Linked DNA regions of Homo sapiens: all the other regions are linked to region 3. Evidence: fine-mapped expression QTL. A gene starts in region 3. Each other region holds a variant in brackets. All regions are shown on one strand. Distances are from middle to middle.

Region 1 (5,146 bases), 110 kb after region 3:
ACAGCCCTAGAGGGAAGAGATCTCCTCTTTCCTGAAAGCTCCAAGAAAAAAAAAAACCTGAGATTCTCTCTGACTAGCCTATTGGGTCACATGTCCCTCCCTGAACCAATCATCATAGGCTTAGGAAAGAAAGCTTTGACTGACCAGGCCCGGTCATATACCCACCTATAGAACCAGGAGGTAGGGTTAGCCCCATGTGCTCTGACTGTGGGATGGGGGACTCCGCAGGTGAAAATTGAGGGATTGTAAAGAGAGGAGGGGGACTGAATCATGGGTAGGCACAAACCACAGGCGCCCACCCACTGTAAGATCTTGAGATTAGGAGTGTCGGGACCTTAGGCGCAGAATGCAGAGCTTTGGAACTGTGGAAATACATTAGGATTGGAATCAACAACTGATAGAACTAGCATGGGAGCAAAAGATCCTTACATCCCATTTATCTGGTATCATCTCCTCCCCTCTCCATTTTATTTGGTGGAACCATATGAAATTACCACTTTGGATCTGGCACGGTGGCTCATACCTGTAATCCCAGCACTCTGGGAGCCCTAGGCGGGCAGATCACCTGAGGTCAGGAGTTCGAGACCAGCCTCACCAACATGGAGAAACCCCATCTCTGTTAAAAGTAAAAAATTAGCTGGGTATGGTGGCGCATGCCTGTAATCCAGCTACTCGAGAGGCTTAGGCAGGGGAATTGCTTGAACCTGGGAGGCAGAAGTTGCAGTGAGCCGAGATTGCGCCATTACATTCCGGCCTGGGCAACAAGAGCAAAACTCTGTCTCAAAAAGAAAGAAATTACCACTTTGTGAGCCAAAAGTGATCACATGTTGGCAATTTTATGTGACTCAACCTAACATAAATAGGGGCCATGAGGCAAAACTTTGTATTGGAGGTTTCTATGGGCCCTACACTGTGGCCCTATGTTCCCCGCAGACGGCTTACCAGAAAGCACATGGCTGTCTCTGCAGCCTTCCTCCTGAACCCAGAGTCCCACTCTTGCCATCACACATTATATTCAACATACATCTGTCAATCCCACCGTAGGCCAGGCACAGTGCTGGGCTCACATCCCTTCCTAGACCTGGGTCTCTGTCCCCAGTGTTTGTCTCTGTCTGTCTCTGTCTCTCTCTGCCCCAAATGTCTGCCCCGCAAGCCTCTCAGTCCTCCTTGTCTGCCAGCCTTCCCACTACCCATCACCTATCGAGCCCGTCCCCCAAGTGCCAACCCCACCCCCACAATCTTGTCTCTCTGCCCCTTCCCCTGCTTCCGAGGAACATGTCTGGACTCGGGTCCCCTCGGAGGTAAGAGGGGAGAAAACGGGTTTAGGCCCTGCTGGGTAGGTGAGGAGGGGGAGAAGCAACAGAGGTGGGGGAGGTGTATGCTGAGACCAGCCCTCACCGAGCTGGGATCTCTAGGACTCAAGCCAGATCGAGCTGCTGAAGGAGCTGCTGGATCTGCAGAAGGACATGGTGGTGATGTTGCTGTCGCTACTAGAAGGTAAACACCCAGGAGTGAGGGTGAGGGAACAGTAAAGAGGTTCAGAGAAGCCTGAGAATGGCCCCCTGAGACCCGGGAGACCCTAATCCTCAACCCCATCTGACATCGTGTCAGGATCCATGGGTTGATGAAGAAGCCATAATAGGCCAGATGCGGTGGCTACACCTGTAATCCCAGCACTTTGGGAGGCCGAGGTGGGAAGATCACCTGAAGTCAGGAGTTTGAGACCAGCCTGGGCAACATGGTGAGACCCTGTCTCTACTAAAAATACAAAAATTAGCCTAGTGTGGTGGTGTGTGCCTGTAGACCCAGCTACTCGGGAGGCTGAGGTGGGAGGATCACCAGAGCCCGGGAGGTCCAGGCTGCAGTGAGCTGTGATCACACCACTGCACTCCAGCCTGGGTGACAGAGCAAGACCCTGTCTCAAAAAAACAAACCCCAAAAACAAACCAAATGTCCAAATGTGGCAAAAGATAAACAATTGATGAATGTGGATATATTAGGATCCCTTTTTTTTTTTTTTCTTTTCTGAGACGGAGTCTCGCTCTGCCGCTCAGGCTGGAGGTGCGGTGGCGCGATCTCGGCTCACTGCAAGCTCCGCCTCCCAGGTTCACGCCATTCTCCTGCTTGGCCTCCCCGGTAGCTGGGACTACAGGCGCCCGCCACCACACCTGGCTAATTTTTTTTTTTTTTTTTTTGTATTTTTAGTAGAGACGGGGTTTCACCATGTTGGTCAGGATGGTCTGGATCTCCTGACTTCGTGATCCTCCCGCCTCAGCCTCCCAAAGTGCTGGGATTACAGACTTGAGCCACTGCGCCCAGCCTACATTAAAATTTAAAAATTACAAAAATAAACTGGAGCCAAGCTTCAGCTGCTGCCTTTAGAGGGAGTGTGGGATCGCAGTTTGCCAATCTCTACCTCTCCTTGCTGCTTACCACTGGCTAGCCTCAGTCTTCTGTGGACCCTCCTGACTGTGTGTACTGGTGGAAGTTTTAGTTGTGTAAGCCCTGAGGTCATGCAGCTCTGAGTTCAAATCCATTCTCCCCACTTTACTGGCTATGTAACTTTGAGTGCATGACTTTCTCT[A/G]TGTCTCAGTTTCTCTTCCTAAAAGTAGAGTCACACACTTCCCTTTTTGTGTGATTGTGCCAGGGTAGCATTTGGCACCTACCTTTAGCGTACATCATCATTATCTTTTTTTTTTTTTTTGAGACAGAGTCTCACTCCATCACCCAGGCTGGAGTGCAGTGGCACGATCTCGGCTCTGCAACCTCCGCCTCCCAGGTTCAAGCAATTCTCGTGCCTCAGCCTCCCAAGTAGCTGGAAATACAAGCACATGCCACCACGCCCAGCTGATTTTGTATTTTTAATAGAGACGGGGTTTCACCATGTTGGCCAGGCTGGTCTCAAACTCCTGGCCTCAAGTGATCCACCCACCTCGGTCTCCCAAAGTGCTGGGATTACAGGCGTGAGCCACCACGTCCGACCTGACATCATTAGCTTTACTGGGGGAGGTGGGCAAAGGCAGGATCAGCCAGGTTGGCACAGGAGGCTGACGCAGGTCAGGAAGGGACCTGTGGAGGGGAGGCTGTGGCTGGCCAGGGACACTCCAGCAGCGTGGTGGCTCCTGGGCTGGAAAGAGAGGCAAGCCTGGTGGGGCCCCAGAAGGGAGTGTTCACCGGCCACACTGACCTGGGGCTGCCTGCAGGGAACGTGGTGAACGGCATGATCGCCCGGCAGATGGTGGACATGCTCGTGGAATCCTCATCCAATGTGGAGATGATCCTCAAGTTCTTCGACATGTTCCTGAAACTCAAGGACATTGTGGGCTCTGAAGCCTTCCAGGACTACGTAACGGATCCCCGTGGCCTCATCTCCAAGAAGGACTTCCAGAAGGTGGGTGTGGGACATCGTGTGGGCCCAGGACTTGGGTGGGGTTGCCAAGGGCCAGCCATACCCTTCTGGCTGGCTGCCTCAGGCAAGAGACATCTCTGCAAGCCTCACTTTCCTTGTTTGTAAAATGAGGATAAAACAGTCCTTGGGTTATATGTATTCTGTTTTATTTCATTTTAGAGACAAGGTCTTTCTCTGTTGCCCAGGCTGGAGTGCAGTGGCGTGATCATAGCTCACTGCAGCCTTGACCTCCTGGCTTAAGCAATCCTCCCACCTCAGCCTCCTGAGTAGTTGGGACGACGGGTGTGTGACATCATGCCTGGCTAATTTTTAAGTTTATTTTTTGTAGAGATGTGGTCTCACTACATTACCCAGGCTCCTCTTGAACTCTTGGGCTCCAACAATTCTCCTACCTTGGCCTCCCAAAGTGCTGGGATTATAGGCATGAGCCACCTCGCTCAGCCCCCTTGGGTTATTTTGAGGATGAAATGCATTAACACAGATGAGAACCGTTATTACTGTTATCTTTATTGATAGTCATAACATTATCATTATTGTGAATAGGCATCAGTTATTCCATCAATAAACATTGGCTGGCTTTCTTCTCTGTGTAGGGCCTGTAGTGACACTATTGACGCATCAATGACCAAGATAGACACAGCCCGTGCTTTCATGGGTTTATAGTCTAATGGGGGAGGCAGTCACTAACTAGACCATTCCAAGTCTAAATAATGAGCCTGCTAGGAGGGAAGTGCTGGAACATCCTTATTCAGAAACCCACTCCTCCTCCTCTAACCACCTCTCCCATCCTAACTCTCCATCTTTTCTTCTGAGCCTCAGTTTCCTACTCTGTAAAATGGGGATAGGATAATCACATTAACCACTAACTATTGGCAGTGTGCGGTGGTTCATGCCTATAATCCCAGCAATTTGGGAGGCCGAGGTGGGAGGATCGCTTGAGCCCAAGAGTTCGAGATCAGCCTGGGCAACCTAGTGAAACCCTGTATCTATAAAAATAAAAATAAAACAACTATTAACTATTGTGAGGATGGGCAGTGCGGGCAGTACCTGGAATATGGTGAGTCCTCAAGAGATGTTAGCTGCTATTACTACTCCCTGATCTTTAATGTTACCATTTTGTTAACTTTTTATTTTGAAATAACTTCAGGTTTATAGAGACGTTGCAAGAACAGCACATAGAATTTCTGAATACCTTTCACCCACATTGCCCAAATGTTTTCTATTTACTATTTACTCCATCATGATTTCCCTTTCCTTTCCTTTTTTTTTTTTTTTTTTTTTTTTGAGACGGAGTTTTGCTCTTGTTGCCCAGGCTGGAGTGCAGTGGTGCAATCTCAGCTCAGTGCAACCTCCGCCTCCTGGGTTCAAGCGATTCTCCTGCCTCAGCCTCCTGAGTAGCTGGGATTACAGGCACGCACCACCATGCCCAGCTAAATTTGTGTGTGTGTGTGTGTGTGTGTGTGTGTGTGTGTGTGTGTGTGTGTGTGTTGTATTTTTAGTAGAGATGGGATTTCACCATGTTGGCCAGGCTGGTCTTGAACTCCTGGCCTCAAGTGATCTGCCTGCCTCGGCCTCCCAAAGTGCTGGGATTACAAGCATGAACCACCTCGCCTAGCCAATTTCCCTTTACTTTGAAACACTTCAGCGTGTATCTCCTGAGAACAAATTCATTCTCCTACCTAAGCACAGGACAATTATGCTAATCAGGAAATTAACATTGGCACAATGCTGCTATCT
Region 2 (5,146 bases), 95 kb after region 3:
CCTTGGCTCACCATCCCTTTCCTTCAGGACCCTGCTGACACCTGGGCCCTGTTGAAGCCCAACTAAGCCCCCAAGACTCTCAGGGGCTCAGGGAGCCCTGCGACCCTGCATAACTCCCCAGGATCCATGAACCCCAAGCCCGGGACTGTACCCAAACCTCTGAGGTCTCAACTGTCCTGGAGACCAAAATACCCGGGCTGTAGAACCTCTTAAGCTTGCTGGGATATCAAGGAGGCCTCCCGGGACCCCACTTACCCCTTGTGTGGGACAACAAGGACAATCTCCCTCCTCTCCGATCCTTTCCAGCTTCAGGGACTCTAAGGAACCCTCCCAGGATTCTGCCCCAAGACCCCTATAGCCCTCCCCCCAGGACCACACCAACACCCTGACAACCTACTAACCCCCTGGACCCCTAAAGACCACCGACTTCTCCCCTGCTACCACCAGGACACCCCTTCCCTCAGAACCTCAGGCACCTCCCAGGACTGCTGAGTCCTGCCAGGACGCCAGAGAGCCCTCCAGGGCTCCATGGACCCCTCACCTTGGTCCTTGAGGGCTCCCCGTCCTAGAACCCCAGTGAACCCCCACCCTGCTGATGCCCCCTTTGGCCCCTGTGTAACCAGTGACTCCGTTGACCTACGTGATCCCCCATGACCTCTGCTGACCCCTTCTGATCTTCAAAGACTCCCTGCCCCACTCTGACCCCCCAGTCATCCCTCTTTGGCCATATTTGACCTTTGATGAGATCCTCTTGTCACCCTTTGCCTCTTCCCAGACCTCCACGAGGCCCCTCGAATCCTTACTGTATCTTCAAGGTGACTCTGTGACCCTCCGGCCCCTCTAGGACCCCTTCTGACCCCGTCAACCTCTGCATCCTTTTGTTTCTCTCAGACCCCCACCCCCACCCCAGAAAAACCTCTTCAGTTCCTGGGGTGCTGGGCCTGGAAGGAAAGGGTTGTGGGTCAGGAAGGAGGATGGGACCTCCAGAGTGACCCAGCCTGGCTCTGTCTCCCCAGAAAGACACAGATGAGGAGGTCCGGGAATTTCTGCACAACAACCTTCACCTTCAGGGAAAGGTATGCCTCCTTCCTCTGCAAGCAAAAGAAGCAAGTCAGAAAGTAACCACAATATTAGTGAAGGTTTGAGCATTTACCAAAGACCAGGCATTGAAGAAAGACCTCAAAGGTCAGGAGTTTGAGACCAGCCTGGCCAATGTGGCGAAACCATGTTTCTACTAAAAATACAACAATTAGGCCGGGCACAATGGCTCATGCCTGTAATCCCAACACTTTGGAAGGCCAAGGCGGGCAGATCACCTGAGGTTAGGAGTTCGAGACCAGCCTGGCCAACGTGGTGAAACCCCGTCTCTACTAAAAGTACAAAATTAGCTGGGTGTGATGGCGGGTGCCTGTAGTCCCGGCTACTCAGGAGGCTGAAGCAGGAGAATCGCTTGAGCCCAGGAGGCAGAGGTTGCAGTGAGCTGAGATCGCACCACTGCACTCCAGCCTGGGTGATGGGGCGAGGCTCCGTCTCAAAACAAAAAGATGAAGAAGAAGAAAGGCCTCAACATGCACTCACCCATTGAGTCCTCCCAAAAACGGAAAGGGGACATCCGGCGGACACTGTGGGAAGGGTCCCTCACGCCGGCCACTCCTTCTTCCTCCCTTCAGGTCGAAGGCTCCCCGTCTCTGCGCTGGCAGATGGCTCTGTACCGGGGCGTCCCGGGTCGCGAGGAGGACGCCGATGACCCCGAGAAAATCGTGCGCAGAGTCCAGGAAGTGTCAGCCGTGCTCTACTACCTGGACCAGGTGGGTGGGGCCGGAGGGGTCTTTCTACTGGGTCTCTGGGCGGAGCCTGGCGGGGGGAGGGGCTTCAAGGATGTGGGTGGGGTCTGGAGATGACTATTAAGTTTTGGGGCAGGGCAGGAGGTGGAGCCTCGAGTTTAAGGCGAGGCTTAGAATGGATCGGGGGAGGGGTCTGCTGCTTAATCTTGCATCTGGGGGCGGGACAGGGAAGGGGCAGATCTTTAGGTCTAGGGGTGGGGCCTAGAGGAGATGCGTTGAGTTTGTGGGCAGGGCCTTGGGTGGGTCGTAGAATTGGTCGTGGCCTGG[C/G]TCGTGGTCCTGGCTCTGTGGGACCTGGCCTAGGATGGAAACTTAGGTCTGGAGGCGGAGTCAGGACCCTGACTCTGTTGGTGGAGACAAGGTTTTCCTTCTGCCGTGTGAGTCTTAACCTGAATATGGACTTCGACACAGCTGGGCAGTTTCATCCAGGGCTGGGAGTGAGAGGGGCAGGGTCTGGGGATGTGACTGTCCTGCTATCCCCTCCCCAGACCGAGCACCCTTACAAGTCTAAGAAGGCCGTGTGGCACAAGCTTTTGTCCAAACAGCGCCGGCGGGCAGTCGTGGCCTGTTTCCGTATGACGCCCCTGTACAACCTGCCCACGTAAGGCCCCCAGGGACAAGGGAAGCGTGAAGGGCTGCGGAGAAAGGGTGGCTGGAGAGTCTGGAGAATGGAGGGCCAACGTGATGGGGCCTTGAGGGTGGTTGGGGGCTGCAGGCGCATGGGAGGTCGGGAAGCACGGAGGAGGGCGCGTCCCAGTGACGTCACACCTCTCCCCTGCAGGCACCGGGCATGTAACATGTTCCTGGAGAGCTACAAGGCTGCATGGATCCTGACTGAAGACCACAGTTTTGAGGACCGCATGATAGATGACCTTTCAGTGAGCTGGGACCCGCCTGGGGGAGTGGGGGGCGAGCTGGATAGGGCTGGGGCGGAGGCCACCCTTGGCACACCTCCAGGGGTCGGCCCTCCACATCAAGGGGTATAGAAATGCCAGCTCCTGGCTTGAGTAGAACCAAAGTAGGGCGCAGGATGTGGGAAAAGAGAAAAAAAAATCCAGACCAACAGGGACATGGGGGCAGTGACAGGAGGGGACTCTAGAAACCCTCTCCCCAAGTCTCCCCTCTCCCACCAGAAAGCTGGGGAGCAGGAGGAGGAGGAGGAAGAGGTGGAAGAGAAGAAGCCAGACCCCCTGCACCAGTTGGTCCTGCACTTCAGCCGCACTGCCCTGACGGAAAAGAGGTGAAGACTCTTGCCAGGGCCCCAGAAATGCCCCCAAGGTCCTGGGGCCACCCCCAGCCCAGCAGCTTCCCTGTGCCTCAGGAGAGGCCCTCCAGGTCCTGGGGGAGCCCAAGACAGACGGATCTTTAAATATCACTTTGCTGGTCAGGCACGGTGGCTCACGCCTGTAGTCCCAGCAATCTGGGAGGCTGAGGCAGGCAATCACTTGAGCCCAGGAGTTCAAGACCAGCCTGGCCAATATGGCAAAACCCCGTTTCTACAAAAATACAATAAATAGCCAGGCTTGGTGGTGGGCACTTGTAATCCCATCTACTCAGGAGGCTGAGGCGGAAGAATCGCTTGAACCTGGGAGGCGGAGGTTGCAGTGAGCCGAGATCATACCACTGCACTCCAGCCTGGGCGACAGAGCGAGACTCTGTCTCAAAAAGAAAAGAAAAGGAACGTAAATGTCACTTTGCTAGGACAGGCACAGCCAACATACACCGTTGCATGGCTGAACACTTCACAAGGGCATGTCTGAGGGGTTCGTATCACAGACAATGTAGATTAACTAGGCTTTTCTAGAAGAAAGTGTCTTGCTCAAATAAAATCAGTATATTATGAAAAAAATCCATATGTATGACAAATTTCCAACAGACAGAAGTAGTGGGGAGGTTTTCTGTAATTCCCTCAAAAGCTTCATGTAGGCTAATGACAGGCTTAGTAATAAATAATTGTGATGCAGATGGCGCAGCTGCTGCCGCTGCTGCTGACAGTAGCAGGCAGCCATTCATCAAATGCTTATTATGTGTCAGGCACCAAGCTAAGCGGGGATATCTATATCCTCTCACTTAACCGCCACACTGTGAGACGGATTATTGCATCTCCTTTGTGTGGATAAGGGAATGAAGGCACAGGGATTTATTTTTCATTTTGTTTATTTATTTATTTATTTATTTTTGAGATGGAGTCTCGCTCTGTCACCCAGGCTGGAGTGCAGTGGCACAATCTCAGCTCACTGCAACCTCCGCCTCCCAGGTTCAAGCAAGTGGGATTACAGGCGCCCACCACTACGCCCAGCTAATTTTTGTATTTTTAGTAGAGACGGGCTTTCACCATGTTGGCCATGCTTGTCTCAAACTCCTGACCTCAAGTGATCTTCCCGCCTTGGCCTCTCAAAGTGCTGGGACTACAGGCGTGAGCCACTGCACCTGGCCTACTTTTTTATTTTTTGAGAAGATCTTGCTCTTCTTGCCCAGGCTGGAATGCAGTGTCATATCATAGCTCATTGCAGCTCAGACCCCCCACTCCACATCACCCCAGGCTCAAGAGATCCTCCTGCCTCAACCTCCTGAGTAGCTGGGACTACAGGCACGTGCCTCCATGCCTGGCTATTTTTTTTTTTTTTTTCTGGTAGAGATGGGGGTCTCACTATGTTGCCCAGGCCGGTCTCAAACTCCTGAACTCAAGCAATCCTCCCCACTCAGCCTCCCAAAGTGTTGGGATTACAGGCATGAGCCACCGCGCCTGTCAGGGATTTGTTTTTCTTACATAACGTGAAGTCAAGAGCTAAAGACTTCAGGACTGGGCAGTGGCACAGGGACACTGACAGGGGCCCAGGGTCTTTCTAGCTTTCTGCTCTGCCCTTCTTAGCTTTTGTCTGTAGTCCTGGGTGGATGCTGCACTTCTAGGCATCACAGCCACATGCCAGGCAGAAAGAAGGACAAAGGGTCCCCACTCTTCACCCTCAGCAAGATCTTTGGTCTCTCTCTCTTTTTTTTTTGAGACGGAGTTTTGCTCTTGTTGCCCAGGCTGGAGTGCAATGGCGCAATCTCGGCTCGCTGCAATCTCCACCTCCCGGGTTCAAGCGATTCTCCTGCCTCAGCCTTCCGAGTAGCTGGGATTACAGGTGCATGCCACCATGCCCAGCTATTTTTCTTTTTTCTTTCTCTTTTTTTTTTTTTTTTTTGTATTTTTAGTAGAGACAGGGTTTCGCCATGTTGTCCAGGCTGGTCTCAAACTCCTGACCTCAGGTGATCTGCCCACCTTAGCCTCCCAAAGTGCTGGGATTACAGGCACGAGCCAC
Region 3 (5,146 bases):
GGCTCACGCCTGCAATCCTAGCACTTTGGGAGGCCAAGGCAGGCGGATTGGCTGAGCTCAGGAGTTCGAGACCAGCCTGGGCAACACAGTGAAACCCGATCTCTACTAAAATACAAAAGAAATTAGCCAGGTGTGGCAGTATGCGCCTGTAGTCCTGGGGGTGCTGAGGCAGGAGAATTGCTTGAACCCAGGAGGCGGAGGTTGCAGTGAGCCGAGATGGTGCCACTGAACTCCAGCCTGGGCGACAGAGCAAGACTCTGTCTCAAAAAAAAAAAACAAAAAAAAGTGAGCAGGGATCACAATGAGCAGATAACAAAGAAACCCAAAACTCTGATAGGCACTTGAGAAGATGCTAGAAATTGTTGGTAACTCATCAGGGAAGTGGAAATTAAAATGACAGCGAGTCCAGGCGCGGTGGCTCTTGCCTGTAATCCTAACACTTTGGGAAGCTGAGGTAGGAGGATCACTTGAGACCAGCAGTTCAATACCAGCCTGGGCAATATAGTAAGACCCCACCTCTATAAAAAATTTAAAAGTTAGTTGGGCGTGGTGGCACAAGCCTGTTGTCCCAGCTGCTCGGGAGGTTGAGGTGGGAGGATCCCTTGAGCCCAGGAGTTCCGGGCAGCAGTGAACCATAATTGCGCCACTGCACCCCAGCCTGGGCAACAAAGTGAGATCTCATCTCTAAAAATAAAATAGAGAAAATAAATTAAAAAACAGTGAGTCACCCTATATAAATCTGGCAAAAATTAGTTAAGTTGGAAATGCCACATGAGGGTTGGGGATATGGGGACCCGGGGACCCTCATGCACTGGTAGTGAGTAGCCATTCCGAGGGCTACCCAGCACTACTTACACAAATGGTGCGCATGGATATGTCACCCAGCAATTAGCTTCTGGGTACGCACAATAAAACATTCTCCCTCAGCTTCCTGGGGGACCAATACACAGATGTTCCCTCCAGCATTATTTCGGGAGAGCTGGAGGCAGCCTGGGTGTCCGCTCCCAGTAGGGGTAGGTGGAAAAACAGAAGGGATCAGTCACCAGAGAATCCTGCAAAGCCACCACTGTCACACACCAGGTGTCCACAGAGCAACAAGGGTAGGTCTTAAAACACATAATGATGACTGACAAAAATAAGAAACACTATTAATATCTTATGATATAATGCTCAATGACACAGAATCATTTTACATTTACATAAAGTTTTAGGGAAAAACAATATTTAATATACAACTATGCGTTGGATAATGTATAACAGATACAACATAGAATTGTATTGTACTGTATAATTATATTAGCCTAAATATATAATTATATAATTATACATTATATAATGCCAAATTATATAATTCCATAATATGACACAAACTTTTGTGCTATTTATTGCAGTTGTGTTAACATCAGTATTTAATTATGGAACACCTAGAAACCTGCTATACCTTGAAGAACGGTTTCTATGTAATTTTGTTTAACTATGGGATATTGTTTTATATAACTTACTGTATACCACTACATGTTAATAAAAAAAATTTTTTTTTTTTTTTTTGAGGTGGAGCCTTGCTCTGTCACCTGGGCTGGAGTGTAGTGGTACAATCTCGGCTCACTACAACCTCTGCCTCCTGGGCTTAAATGATTCTTGTTCCTCAGCCTCCCAAGTAGCTGGGATTAGAGTCGTGTGACACCATGCCCAGCTAATTTCTGTGTTTTTAGTAGAGTCAGAGTTTCACCATGTTGACCAAGCTGGTCTCAAATTCCTGGCTTCAAGTGATCTGTCTGCCTTGGCCTCCCAACGTGCTGGGATTACAGGCATGAGCCACTGTGTCTGGCCTAGTAATAATTTTAATAGGGCTGGACGTGGTGGTTTACACCTGTAATCCCAGCACTTTGGGAGGCTGAGGTGGGCGAATCATGAGGTCAGGAGTTCGAGACCAGCCTGGCCAACATGGTGAAACCCCGTCTCTACCAAAAATACAAAAATTAGCCGGGTGTGTTGGCAGGTGCCTGTAATCCCAGCTACTCAGGAGGCTGAGGAGGAGAATCGTTTGAACCTGGGAGGTGGAGGTTGCAGTGAGTCAAGATCTTGCCACTGCACTCCAGTCTGGGCAACAAGAGCAAGAGTCCGTCTCAAAATAAATAAATAAATAAATAAATAATAATAATAGCAACACTTACATTACATTAACCAGGCACTGGCACTGTTTTAAGTTTTATCTCATTTAATTAATTATCTCATTTAACTCTCCCAACAACCACGTGAGGTCGGTACTATTAATATTCCCCTTACTGGATGGGGAAACCGAGGCACAGAGAAGCTAAGTGGCTTATCCATGTAACTCAAGGAAGTGGCAAGGCTGGGTGGGATTCAGATCCAGATTATCTGGCTTGGAGTCGGAGTCCTTGTTCTTTTTTTTTTTTTTTTCAGACGAAGTCTCGCCCAGGCTGGAGTGCAGTGGCTCAATCTCGGCTCACTGCAGCTTCTGCCTCCCGAATTCAAGGAGTTCAAGCAATTCTCCTGCCTCAGTTTCCCAAGTGGCTGGGATTACAAGCATGTGTCACCACGCCTGGCTAATTTTTGTACTTTTAGTAGAGACGGGGGTTTCACCATGTTGGCCAGGCTGGCCTCGAACTCCTGACCTCAAGTGATCCACCCACCTCGGCGTCCCAAAGTGCTGAGATTACAGGGGTGAGCCACCACTCCCGGCCGGAGTCCTTGTTCTTAATCACTATGTTTGGTGCTTTTTAAAGTCAGGAGATCTGGTGCACATCCCTGCTCTGCTGCGTGATATCTTGCAAGAACTTCCCCACTCAGAGCCTCAGTCTGCCCTCTGTGAAATGGGAGAATGATGGCACGTTACTTACCGTGGTGGGGAGAAAGCGCAGGTACCTCCTAGATACTCTCTCTCCCACCCCACCTCCGGCGGCCAACGGCCAAGCAAACCTCCAGCCAAGATTTGGGGTATGTGGGCAGGGCTCCGGCGAAGGGGAGTGGCCGGGGAGTCCTGGTCCAATGGGGCCCGGGGGCGGGGACTTCCTCCCATCTCTGTCCAGCATGCGTGTACTCCTCGCAGTTCCATCTACCTCGCGGGTGCCTCTGGTGTCTCCAGAGGTCTCCGACCCCAGCCCGCCCCCAGCCCTCCCGCCCAGCCCGCAGCCCCCTCCCTCTGTTCCCCGACCTCAGACCCTGGGCTTCCGACCTCGACATCATGGGTGACGCAGAAGGCGAAGACGAGGTCCAGTTCCTGCGGACGGTGCGTATCTCTGGGTTAGGGGCCTGTGGGGCTATCTCTTGGGGCTCTCTGAGGGTCTCTCTGTCTCTGAATGTCCCTGTCCGGCTTGCTGGTGGTCTCTGAGACTCGAGGTCTCTTCCTATGTCACTTTGAGTGACTGTCACTCTGTCTTTTAGTCTCCTTCACCTTTCTCACTACAGAGAATTAGTAGGATTGGGGACTCCAGAATGGGAAAGGGATCTTCGGTTGCCCTCTCTTCTGACTTTAGCGATTTGTCCCCCACAAGAAGGACCCCCGAGGGAGCACACCCTCACACCATCTTGGAAGCAGGCACTTGGGGAAGGTGGTTCTAATTCCTGGGCTTGATTTAGCCATCCCCCCACCCCCACCTTAGCCCTAATTCTCTTTTTGCTCCAGACTCTGACCTATTTAAATTCTTGAGAAGGGAGCTGGAGTGAGCTGGAGGACACAGCTGCTTCCAACTCCTAGCCCTTGAGGGTCTTGTGGGGGAGGGATCTCTTGGGTTCTGGGTCTTTCTTTCCTTCTTCGTTTTGGGCAGGAGGGCTGCTCCCAATGGCTGCTAATGGTCTTGCAGGGTCTCTGGGTGGTGTCTCTCCCCATCTGTCTCTTTGGGTGTCTCCATGTCTCTGTCTCTTCCTCCATCTCAGTCTCCCTGTCTCTGTTTCTTAGCTTAAGGCCCTCTGATTTTCGCTGTCTCTCTAGCTGGGTTACTCCCTGCATCTGAGCCCCAGCTGGGGGCAGGGATGGGAATTGGAACAACAGGTGTCCCTCCCAGAATAGCCGGCTTTTCTGGGGCCTGGGCAGGGGATGGGGAGGGGATGAGAGGGAGGAGGGGCTGCCATCTCCTTGTCCTTCCCATCTTCCCCTCCCAGTGGCTCCGCAGGGTGTGGGGTCGTAAATATGGGAGGGGACGTCCTCTCCTCTGGGCTAGGTCTGCTGACCAGACGCTAGCCCCGCCCCTCCCCCCGGGGCCCTGGAGCCACACAGGAAATGCTGACACAGCATTCCTGCCCCAGAATAGGACCCTGGCGAGCCGGGTCCGGTTTCCTGGGAGAGAGGAACAAACAGCTGGGGCTGGTAGTGAAGGATGGGGACAGCTGGGAAGGGGCCTAGCTTCAGCCGAGACTCTCTCCCCAGCCCCAGCCCCTCAGCAGACACCATGGGTCGGGCCCTCCCCAGCCCTAATAAGACCATGGCCATGGCCACTGGCTCTTGAGCTGTCGCTCTAAACCAGGCCCTGTGCCCTGGGCCTCTGCCTCCTGAGACATCTAATTATATCCTTGCTGCCCTGTCTTCTGAGGTAGGGTCCTATCTTTATCTCCCTGACAGATTTGAGGGAAACCAAGGCCCGAATGGTAGAATCACTCACCCAAGGTCAAGGCCAGGAAGTGGCATCTCTGGATGCCCCTGGTGCCCAGCCCCATTGCCTTCACCAGAGAAAATCTGGGCCCAGACTTGCCAAAGTAGTCAGCGTTAGGGTTCTGGAGGCTTGGCCCTGGAATCTCTCCACCCCAGACTGGGTCAGTTTTTCTGATTGTTACTGAGGTCGTGGTGGATTTCTCAAAACTTTCTGGAGGCTGGGCTCAGTGGCTCATGCCTGTAATCTCAGCACTTTGGGAGGCCAAGGTGAGCGGATCACTTGAGGTCAGGAGTTTGAGACCAGCCTGGCCAACATGGTGAAACCCCGTCTCTACTAAAAATACAAAAAAATATTAGCCAGGCGTGGTGGTGCATGCCTGTAATCTTAGCTACTCGGGAGGCTGAAGTGGGAGGATTGCTTGAACCTGGGAGGCAGAGGTTGCAGTGAGCCGAGATTGCGCCACTGCACACTCCAGCCTGGGCGACAGGGCGAGACTCCATCTCAGAACAAAAAACCTTCTGGACCACATCCCGCCC
Region 4 (5,145 bases), 140 kb after region 3:
CCTCGATGAGCCTCAGTTTCCCCTCTGTAAAACGGGAATCATAATCTGCCTCTTTCTGGTGGAGGGAAGTGTAAAACTTAGATTACCCAGGGGAAATAAGAGAGAAAGGAGATGAGAGGAGCAGGCAGGCAGCCTGAGAAGCGCTTAGGGTGAGGACTCAGCCCTGATGCTTGCCCTGTCCCTAGGTGGATGGAGTGGAGGAGGAGCTCCCGCCAGAGCCAGAGCCCGAGCCGGAACCAGAGCTGGAGCCGGAGAAAGCCGAGTGAGTGGCCTTGGGGCTGAGGGGCCTAGCCCCTATCACTGCCTCCCTCCTAGAGTAGGAGCCTCCAGAGGTCAGGCCCCAAGGCTGTCCTGGCCACCCTGTGTCCTCGGCATCACCCAGCCCAGACTCAGGCACGGAGGAGGGGCTCTGAGTAAAAGAATCAAGAAATAAATGCTCCAACCTGGGCAACATAAAAAAAAAATTAAAATTAGCCAAGCATGGTGGTGTGTGGGGAGGCTGAGGTGGGAGGATCACTTGACCCCTGGAGGTGGAGGCTGCAGTGAGCCCTGATCGCAGCATTGCCCTCCAGCCTGGGTGACAGAGCAAGACCCTGTGTCGAAAAAGAAAAAAAAATATGGAGAGATAGAAAAATGAAAACTCCCATCTAACTGCCAGGCCTTCGCATGTGCTTTCCCGCTGCCTGGAACACAGGCCCCCATGCCTACTCTGAGTCTTTCTCATCCTTTCCAATTCTCCAGGACACCTGACCCCCTCCTAAGTTGAGGAGGTGTCTCCTCCAGATTCCCACAACCCCCTGAGCTTCCTCCATCCCAGCCCCGACCACTCTGGGCTGTCACTGCCTGGTGTCACTGTCACTGCCTGTCTCCCACATTGGACTGGAGCCCCATAAGGGCAAGTCCTGATTATCTCATCATCCCATGTACCCAGTACCATCCAAACCTGGGCCAGGCACAGGGCGGGCCCTTGGTGAATGGTTTTGAATGAATGAACTCATGCATTGCCTGCCCAGGCACCTCCTGACCTCTCTCTGTCCTGCCCTGCAGTGCCGAGAATGGGGAGAAGGAAGAAGTTCCCGAGCCCACACCAGAGCCCCCCAAGAAGCAAGCACCTCCCTCACCCCCTCCAAAGAAGGAGGAAGCTGGAGGCGAATTCTGGGGAGAACTGGAGGTGCAGAGGGTGAAGTTCCTGGTAAGGATCCAGCCAGGTCACCTGAACCTTCTTCTCCCCGGGAGCCCCACCTCTGGTGCCCACCTCTCCTGCTCACCTTGTTCTTGAGTTCATCTGTTCAAGCTCGTCTCTAAGAAGAACCCTAGCTGGGGAAAGGGCAGAGGTATCCCCAGACCTGCGGACAGGGTAGCATTTTCAGATGGCCCTCACTTGGTTCCTTGTCCCTTCCCTGCTCACTATCCTTATTCCAACCTCCATACCTCTGTTCATCGGGGCCACCCACCCACACTTCCACCTCCATCCTCTGTCCAGAGCTACATTCAGTGAGGCCACCACTCTGGCCTTCCCACCGTGGCCTGTTCTTGGCTGTCAGCCCTTACAGTCTCAGTCCCTCCACCACTCCCAGTGCTGCTGTGGAGGTCTGAGCTCTCCCAATTCCTGGGGAAGCGTTCATCTCATCCAGGCCAGGAAGAAGGGTGGGTGTTGGGAGGCAGGTCCCAGGGTTCCCTCCATCCTGTCTCCCCTCCAGGCCTGGCCCGATAGGAGGGGGTGAGGGAGGCTGGGCACGGTGGGTCACACCTGTAATCCCAGCACCTTGGGAGGCCGAGGCAGGCGGATCGCCTGAGGTCAGGAGTTCAAGACCAGACTGGCCAACATGGTGAAACCCCATCTCTACTAAAAATACAAAAAAAAAAAAAAAAAAAAATTAGCCAGCCATAGTGGTGCATGCCTGCAATTCCAGCTACTCAGGATGCTGAGGCATGAGAATCGCTTGAACCCAAGAGGCAGAAGTTTCAGTGAGCCGAGATCGTGCCACTGCACTCCAGCCTGGGCGACAGAGTGAGACTCTGCCTCAAACAAAGTGGTGGTGGGGGGCGGGGGGGCGGTGAGGGAATCATGTGGAACGAAGGTGGTTCCGTCAGAATTTGTGGGAAGAATGAGGGATGGAGGGAAAGGTGGAGAGAAAGAGGGAGAGATGGAAGATGTTCCTGGCCGTGCGAGGGGGCTCATGCCTGTAAGTCCAGTACTTTGGAAGTCCAAGGTAGGAGGATCACTGGAGCCCAGGAGTTTGGGGCAAGCCAGGGCAACATAGGGAGATCCCTGTCTCTACAAAAGAATTTTTTTTTTTTTTGAGACGGAGTCTCGCTCTGTTGCCCAGG[T/C]TGGAGTGCAGTGGCACAATCTCGGCTCACTGCAAGCTCTGACTCCTGGGTTCACGCCATTCTCCTGCCTCAGCCTCCCGAGTAGCTAGGACTACAGGCGCCCGCCGCCACGCCTGGCTAATTTTTTGTATTTTTAGTAGAAACGGGGTTTCACCGTGTTAGCCAGAATGGCCTAGATCTGACCTTGTGATCCACCCGCCTTGGCCTCCCAAAGTGCTGGGATTACAGGCGTGAGCCACTGCACCTGGCCGAATATTTTTAATCTTTTTTTTTTTTTAATTACTGCTCCTTGCAGAGCAGGGCTACCCTCTAGGCAGTGCACCCAGAGTAGCCAAAAATGTTTTTTTAATTAGCTGGGTGAGGTGACACATGCCTGTGGTCCCAGCTGTTCAGGAGGCTGAGGCGGGAGGATCACTTAAGCACAGGAGGTTGAGGCAGCAGTGAGCTATGGTTGTGTCACTTCACTCCAACCTGGGTGAGAGTAAGACCTTGACTCAAAAAAAAAAAAAATTCCCTTTCATCTTCTGTAAAGCAGGCAGGGCGACAGGTGGGGTGACCTCACTCAGGAAGCAGCATGGCCAAGTGGCTTGGAGCTTGGACTCTGGAGGCTGACTGCCCGGGTTCAAATCCCATCTCTGCCACTCGTTGGTTATGTTACCTTGAGCAAGACACCACTTCCCTGAGCCTCAGTTTCCTCATCTGTAAAGTGCGCATAACAGTAGTGCCCACTTCACAGGGGTGTACTGAGAATTAAACAAGCTCATGCAAATAAAGTTCTTAGCCCAGATGTTGGTATAAGCAAGCACTCAACAAATAGGAGGTTGAGGCCAGCCGAGGTGGCTCACACCTATAATCCTAGCACTTTGGGAGGCTGAGGTGGGTGGATCACCTGAGGTCAGGAGTTTGAGACCAGCCTGACCAACATGGTGAGACCCCGTCTCTACTGAAAATACAAAAACTAACTGAGTGTGGTGGTGCATACCTGTAATCCCAGCTACTTAGGAGGCTGAGTCATGAGAATTTGAACCCGGTAGGCAGAGGTTGCAGTGAGCCGAGATGGCGCCACTGCATTCGAGCCTGGGTGACAGAGTGAGACCTTGTCTCAAAAATAAATAAATAGGCTGGACGTGGTGGCTCAAGCCTGTAATCCCAGCACTTAGGCTGAGGAGGGCGGATCACGAGGTCAGGAGTTTGAGATCAGCCTGGCCAATATGGTGAAACCCTGTCTCTACTAAAAATACACAAATTAGCTGGGCGTGGTGGCACACGCCTGTAGTCCCAGCTACTCGGGAGGCGGCAGCAGAGGAATTGCTTGAACCCGGGCGGCAGAGGTTGCAGTGAGCCAAGATCGCACCACTGCACTCCAGCCTGGACGACAGAGCAAGACTCTGTCTCAAAAATAATAATAATAATAATTAATAAATAAATAGGAGGTTGTAGGAAAGATATTGAGAGCCCAGGTACTTTGATTGCAGGTAAATGATGGGATGAATTCTCCAGGGAAGAGGCTGATCTGTGAGCGCTTTCTCTCTTTTTCTCTTCTCTCTCAGAACTACCTGTCCCGGAACTTTTACACCCTGCGGTTCCTTGCCCTCTTCTTGGCATTTGCCATCAACTTCATCTTGCTGTTTTATAAGGTGCTGGTCCTGAAGGGCTGGGAGGGTCAGGCCCTTTTCCATGCTGTGGGATGGGAGGCTCAGCCCCTATCAGAATTTCAGGGTTCCTCCACTGAAGGGATAAGGTATTGGGCTTTGGGTCGTTAGGAGGGTTCAGGCTGGACACCTGGATCCTGGGACCCCCCTCCATGGGGGTGAGTAGGGGATATCTGGATCCATCTGGGACAGAAGCCTGAGTGTCTGTGGGAGTTAGAGCAGGAGCAGGAGCTGAGTTCTCTGCTCAGCTCGGCCACATGCCAGTCCTGTGCGCCTGGGTGCAGGCCCTCAGCTCTTGGCAACACCCACTGATTCTGTTAAGCATCTTTGGTTTCACATAAGCTAAACAGAAGTTTGCAGGGAGGAAGAAATGGGCCACTCACAGAATGGAAGGAATGGGTTAAGAACCAGGCCTCCTGAAGGACAAAGGGACCCTTGGGGTCTTGCCAGGGGTCTAGATAACAGGACAGTAAGGTAGACTAGAGAGATCGAAGCATGGCTTCTGTGGGACCCAGAAGTCCCACAGTGGGACTGCCCACTGGCGCATGACGATAGGCAAGGTGCTTACCATCCCTGTGCCTCAACTCCCTCATCTGTAAAATGGAATACCTCTTAGAGCTGTGGGGATTGAAAGAGGATAAGGCACCAGGCACAGTGGCTCACGCCTGTAATCCCAGCACTTTGGGAGGCCGAGGTAGGTGGATTACCTGAAGTCCGGAATTCAAGACCAGCCTGGCCACATGGTGAAACCCCGTCTCTACTAAAAATACAAAAAAAAATTAGCCAGGCCTGGTGGCGGGCACCTGTAATCCAAGCTATGCAGGAGGCTGAGGCAGTAGAATCCCTTGAACCCAGGAGGCAAAGGTTGCAGTGAGCCGAGATTGCACCACTACACTCCAGCCTAGGTGACAAGAGTGAAACTCCGTCCACCCCACCAAAAAAAAGAGGATGAGTGTGTGTAAGGCAGTTAGAGCAACAGTACCTGGCATATAAAAAGCACTGTGTAAATGTTTAGCTGCTACTAATTTTCATGTTAGTGTTAATATTAGTGGGCAGTCTCTTTAGGGCTCCACTATCAAGATGAACCAACTCTGTCTTCAGTTCTGTGCCACTCAGTTCAATAGGCTAATTCCCAGGTCAGAGTCTGATTTGCTAGCTACAG

What was found.
Region 1: its variant is fine-mapped to the expression of RYR1 in whole blood (TOPMed, PIP above 0.99). The same link has a PIP of 0.9 or more in blood mononuclear cells.
Region 2: its variant is fine-mapped to the expression of RYR1 in whole blood (INTERVAL, PIP above 0.99).
Region 4: its variant is fine-mapped to the expression of RYR1 in lung (TOPMed, PIP above 0.99).

The regions. Positions count from the first base shown.
Region 1 is chr19:38,545,030-38,550,175 of GRCh38, forward strand. It overlaps RYR1 (ryanodine receptor 1), which reads left to right. Exons shown (of 106, transcript NM_000540.3): 88 at 1,416-1,497; 89 at 3,204-3,391. Among named protein-coding and RNA genes, the nearest start is that of MAP4K1-AS1, 49 kb to the right of the region's middle. The variant A/G (reference allele first, on the strand shown) is at 2,585.
Region 2 is chr19:38,525,977-38,531,122 of GRCh38, forward strand. It overlaps RYR1 (ryanodine receptor 1), which reads left to right. Exons shown (of 106, transcript NM_000540.3): 72 at 1,017-1,076; 73 at 1,671-1,808; 74 at 2,330-2,442; 75 at 2,623-2,719; 76 at 2,975-3,081. Among named protein-coding and RNA genes, the nearest start is that of MAP4K1-AS1, 68 kb to the right of the region's middle. The variant C/G (reference allele first, on the strand shown) is at 2,112.
Region 3 is chr19:38,430,625-38,435,770 of GRCh38, forward strand. It overlaps RYR1 (ryanodine receptor 1), which reads left to right and starts at 3,067. Exons shown (of 106, transcript NM_000540.3): 1 at 3,067-3,250. The coding sequence starts at 3,206. RefSeq lists a silencer at 2,950-3,089 and an enhancer at 3,821-4,396.
Region 4 is chr19:38,566,726-38,571,870 of GRCh38, forward strand. It overlaps RYR1 (ryanodine receptor 1), which reads left to right. Exons shown (of 106, transcript NM_000540.3): 92 at 186-262; 93 at 1,048-1,192; 94 at 3,882-3,968. Among named protein-coding and RNA genes, the nearest start is that of MAP4K1-AS1, 27 kb to the right of the region's middle. RefSeq lists a silencer at 2,591-2,791 and an enhancer at 2,654-2,773. The variant T/C (reference allele first, on the strand shown) is at 2,332.